2 separate regions of the Homo sapiens genome follow, and region 1 is linked to region 2. Evidence: fine-mapped expression QTL. A gene starts in region 2. The other region holds a variant in brackets. All regions are shown on one strand. Distances are between the middles of the regions. Region 1 overlaps OSBP2 (oxysterol binding protein 2). Region 2 holds the start of OSBP2 (oxysterol binding protein 2).

The links. PIP is the estimated chance that this variant, and not a neighbour inherited with it, causes the effect.
Region 1: its variant is the best candidate, but not a certain one, in a credible set for the expression of OSBP2 in unexposed skin (GTEx, PIP 0.58).

Annotation. Positions count from the first base shown.
Region 1 is chr22:30,829,940-30,832,439 of GRCh38, forward strand. All of the region lies in intron 2 of OSBP2 (oxysterol binding protein 2), which reads left to right. Among named protein-coding and RNA genes, the nearest start is that of MORC2-AS1, 91 kb to the right of the region's middle. RefSeq lists enhancers at 1-1,016, 1-452, 453-953. The variant C/G (reference allele first, on the strand shown) is at 1,208.
Region 2 is chr22:30,693,316-30,696,273 of GRCh38, forward strand. OSBP2 (oxysterol binding protein 2) reads left to right here and starts at 1,559. Exons shown (of 14, transcript NM_030758.4): 1 at 1,559-2,238. The coding sequence starts at 1,595. RefSeq lists silencers at 1,232-1,311, 1,696-1,745.

The sequences.
Region 1 (2,500 bases), 140 kb after region 2:
GGGCTTGGGAGACTTCAGTGAAAAGATCTCAAGGTGGCTAGTGAAATGGAGAGAGGGGCCTGAGTCTGGATGCATGGGGTTGAGCTGGAGCTGGGACTGAGGGGTTTGCTGGATGTACATCTTCTTCTGACCTCATCAGGGAGTGTCCTGTAGGGCCCGGCCCTGCCCACTGCAGATTCATTCTCCTGGCATCTGGTTTTCCTATAAAGTGCCAGTCAGCTCAAACCAGCAGCAGCATCTGATCAAATAGATGAGCAATATGAATAAAAATGAAGTTATGGGCTTTGGGCTGCCAAAGATAAATTTCCTTTTATGTCCTGTTTCCCTGTGACGTGTGTGTTGAGTAATGATTCCTGACGCATATCTTCAGAAATAGTAGTTGCTCACACTGGGTGGTGTGTCAAGGCGGAAGGAGGCCACAGACTTGGGGAATGGAACCCCACCTGGACAGCGCCCTGGGGCTGCCTGCCGCATCCTGACCTGGCATGGCCATCAGCCTTTCGGCCATAGGTGGGGCTGGTTAGAGGACAAGTGTCTTTCCTGGTCAGGCCCACTGGGTGCATCCCTCCACCGCGGATATTTTTACATTAGAAGCAGCATAGTTTGTACGGGACAGGGCCCCTGGAATGTGACTCTTAGTTCATTAACCATTTGGTAACTGCTCATCTGCCTGGCAAAATCCCTTCCCCAAATCCCACTCCTCACCTGTCCCCCAGCACACATGCTTTGTTTTTGGCCAGACTTTCTGAGATTCAGCAGGACCAATCTTCTGTGCCCTAGGCATTCATTATTTTTAAGGGTTATTTACTGTTTAGACAACAATTCCAGATGTTCAAGAGCATGGCGTTTCCATAGCGCCATTATCCCTTTGCCACTGTTTTTAGGTCTCTATTTTTGGTCAATGTTTTTCCTTTATACAAACATCCTTTTAATATCATTGAGATCCAAAAAAAAAAAATGTCATTTTCACATGGCTGTACATCATAAACACTTTCCCACGTTATCGCAGGCTTTGTGTTTATTCGTTGGAAGGCTGTGGAATGCCTTTTCCTTCTGTTAGACATTTAGGTTCTTCCCAGATCACTGTAGCCAACTGCTGCCTGAGCATCTTTGGCATGTAAAGTTTTTCCTTTGTGTTTCTTTCCGGGACACATTGCCAAGAATGCAATCGCTGAGTCAAAGGGTGTGAATGCTTCCCTCTAGCAGC[C/G]CCATCACCCTTGGCAAGAACGTTCTGGTTCATGATGCTTGGGGCGGGTGTGGACAACACCTTGCTGTAAGCTTCCCTACATTAGACTTCCATCATTCTGAGAGATTATTCTTTGGCCAGTATAATGTGCCTTGTTTTCACTTGCAATTGACTAACCAAAAAGCATGAAGTGTCCTTACTAGTTCAGTTATTATTTGTTGTTGCTCTTTGATGGCTCGTCAGCTGCACTGTCTCCTGCCATTGTGTGGAAAACCAACGGAAGGCATTCTAAACGAAGTTGGTTTATGTTGTACGTGGCTGGAACCCAAGCCAGACAGGACTTCTTGGGACCCTGGCACCGATCCACTGTCCTTGGTGGTTGGGGTTCAGAGAAGTGGTCCCTGGAACTGTCATCCCCTAGCAAAACCTGCTTCTTGACTTGTGGGGCAAATGCAAAATGAAAATATAGGGCCCCTTGCAAAAATTATTAAGAATTTCAAGACAGCTGAGAATTAAATCAAGGGTAGGGCCCTTCTGAATTGGGGGTGATGCTGGCACTGCCCCTGTTCTCTGGAGTTATCTAGTGGGAGGTGGCTCACTTGACTGTACTGAATCCACTCTTTAGCTTTCCCAAGGGACATTCCAGATGCAGAGGTCCCAATCCAGGCATGGGTGAGAGTCTGATGGGAGGCCACTTATGGCCACCAACAGCCCCCATCCTGCTGCTGTGATCAGCACTCAAAGTCAGCACCACAGGAGAACCTGTTAACCACCCTCTCTGATCTCCTTGGCCCAAAGTTAATTGCCTTCTCCCATGGCTGTTTCTGTGCCTACTTTGACCTCACCCTGACCCCTGGTAGCTCTTTCTGGTGATGATCTGACCTTTCTCCTCCTGCTCCTCTTTGCCTGCTTTGGCCAAGCAGAACAAGTGACCAGGAAGCATCTCACTGTCCTGGGACATTCTGGGCACTTTTTCCAGTATGAGCCTTCATCTTTGTTGTGCCTACTTCACTCCCACCATCCCTCTCTGCCCTTCTGCCCTTGCCCCCTTCTTACCAGCTCAGTTTTCAAGATTCACACTGAAGTCCTTAATGTATCCAGAATTGATTTCTGTATATATATGTAAATGATATGAACTATGCAGTTAATTTTCTTTTTCTTTTTTCTTTTCTTTCTTTTTTTTTTTAAGATACAAAGTCTCGTTTTGTTGCCTGGAGTGCAGTGGCATGATCATGGCTCACTGCAGCCTCGACCTCCCCATCTCAAGCGATCCTCCCACCTCAGCCTCCCAAGTAGCTGGGACTACAGGCATGT
Region 2 (2,958 bases):
AGACAAGTGCCTGAGGAAGGGGTCTCAAAGTCACCAGCAAAGATGCCAGCGGCTCCTGCTCAGTGCATGTCTGCACCTCCTATTTCTAGGACCTTCCAATCTGCTTCCTTCTGGGGACCACTTCACGTAGGAAGCAGTCCCTACACAGGTTATCTTGTCACAAGCAAAGATCAGGAATGGATAGGTGGGTAAGGGGAGAGTAAGACGTGATGGTGAGCTAAGAGGAGTCTGCAGAGAGGTCTAAGCTTGAAAAGTCTGGACAGAAACCCAATGTTCAGTCTTTCCATTTGTATTTCTGATTATTTGTAGTAACCATCAACTTTCGTCATTTGGATAGATTCTTAAGAAAAAAAAAAAATCACTGATGGCTGGGCACAGTGGCTCACGCCTGTAATCCTAGCACTTTGGGAGGCCGAGGCGGGAGGATCCTGGCCTGAGGTCAGGAGTTCAAGACCAGCCTGACCAACATGGTGAAACCCCGTTTCTACTAAAAATACAAAATTTAGCTGGGCATGGTGCGGGCCGTGGAATTCCAGCTACTAGGGAGGCCAAGGCAGGAGAATCGCTTGAACCTGGGAAGCGGAGGCTGCAGTGAACCAAGATCACGCCACTGCATTCCAGCCTGGGCTACCGAGTGAGACTCAGTCTCAAAAAGGAAAAAAAAAAAAAGCGGAAAAAAAAATTCGCTGATGTTTTAACCATTCTGGGGTCACAGCCTCCTTTGTTATGGACCTACTCTGGAAAAATGCACAGACAGGTAAACCTCTGCGGAAGCCTCACAGACTGCCAGCCTACCCAGGGATCCCGGGAGGTCCAAGTTCAGAATCCCACTTTGAGATGTTTCTTGTACTAAAACGCTTGGTTTACAAAAAGTCTTCCCCTATTTGTTTAGAGAACCCGAACGATGTCGTCACTGGCAGCGAAGCGCCTTGGCATGAACCGTAGGCCAGCTGGCTCAGGAGGTGGAGGCGGTGAGGCGGCCACTTGGGGCCACCGCTTCTGGCGGCCGCAGGAGCGACCCACAGACAGGTAATGGCTGCCATGGGGGGCGGGGCGTCGTCTTTAGCCTTTAGCGCCCCTGTGCTTCGTGCGCATTTCGTGGCCTCTGGGTGCCGTACCTGCTTCCCACCCGGCTTTCCTGGGTGGCGGAGAGCGAACCCACCCCAGCCTGGGTTGGGGGAGGGGGCGTCGGCGCAGGGTCCCGTGGGCAGAGCTGCGCTGGGAGCTGGCGGGCTCCGCATTCATCATTGTTCCTCCAGCGCCTGGCACGGCTGGGCCGAAGCAGAGACCGTGGCCTGAAGCGCGCCATCCCCTTCGGAGTTGACCGACCACCAAGCTCTTCCGCCCACAGGTGTTGTCAGAGCTCCTTCCACCGGCCGGACCTAGGAAGGACCCAGGGTCCAAACATGGCCCGAGGCTGGCCGAGAGCACAACAGCCGGCGGGCGCTGACGGGCACGGAGCGCACGGGACCGCGGAGGAACCCGCGCGCGCCCCCGCCTCGCGCCGCGCGCACGTGACTGCGCCCCCGGCCCCGCCCCCGGCCTGCCCCCCGCCCCCACTGGCCGCTCGGCCGCGCGCGGGTCGGCCGGCTCTATGGGGAAAGCGGCGGCTCCGAGCCGAGGCGGCGGCTGTGGCGGCCGCTCCCGCGGGCTCTCGTCGCTGTTCACGGTTGTCCCCTGCCTGTCGTGCCACACGGCGGCGCCGGGCATGAGCGCTTCCACGTCCGGCTCCGGGCCGGAGCCCAAGCCCCAGCCCCAGCCCGTGCCCGAACCGGAGCGGGGACCGCTGTCAGAACAGGTGTCGGAGGCAGTTTCGGAGGCAGTGCCAAGATCGGAACCTGTGTCCGAGACGACGTCTGAGCCGGAGCCAGGGGCTGGGCAGCCATCGGAACTGCTGCAGGGGTCGCGGCCGGGGTCAGAGTCAAGCTCAGGTGTAGGGGCTGGGCCCTTCACTAAGGCCGCATCGGAGCCGCTCTCCCGGGCGGTGGGGAGCGCGACCTTTCTCAGACCCGAGTCAGGATCGCTGCCAGCGTTAAAGCCCCTGCCTCTTCTGCGACCAGGACAGGCGAAGACTCCTCTTGGGGTTCCAATGTCGGGGACTGGCACGACCTCCAGTGCCCCACTGGCCTTACTGCCTCTGGACAGCTTCGAGGGCTGGCTTCTCAAGTGGACCAACTATCTGAAGGGCTACCAGCGCCGCTGGTTCGTGCTGGGCAATGGTTTGCTCTCTTACTACAGGTATGGAAGCGCCAGGGTGGGACATGGGGGTTGGAGGGTGGTGATGCTGCAGGGATGGTGATGGAGGGCCTCCATGGTTGGCGGACACTGCCACTAGTCTAGAGATGTTTAGGGGCATGCATTCCAGCAGGCCAAGTCACGCTTCTGGCCCGCCGCCAAGGGCCGGGGGCCCTGACCTCTGGCAAGGGTGAATGTGATCTGCGGACATGACCTCTGGCAAGCTTGGGTTTTTGGGCAAGTGGGGAGGTGGAGTAAGGGAGTGATCTGGGGCCTCAGTTCCCTTCTGCTTGGCAGTTGTGGGGCTTGGGGCAGCTAGCTAGAGTCAGCCCCTCAAAGTCCTTGCCCTTTCTGGTTCGGGAGCTAACATCATTGTGTGTTTGGGATTGAGGGAGAGAGTCACCTTGTTCAGTCCTTAGGACCCACACTCTTAGGAAGGGCTGCTTATTCTTCCCGCCTGGGGCAGTTACTCCCACCTTTCCTGATGCCTCTGGTTGCCAGGCCTTGGGCTGGGCACCACAGACTCACAGATGTATTGGACACGGTTCTTGGCCTTCAGGAGTCCATCTTGGCATTTTGCGGAGAGCTAGGAAGTGTTTTGCTGCCCTCCTTTCTTATTCCAGACCCAGCACGGGATTCAAAATTAAAGTCCAGTGGTGAGAGAGCTAACACTGTCTTCCCACTGAAACTGGTTGAAAGGAGGTTACTGAAGCCTCCCTTTGC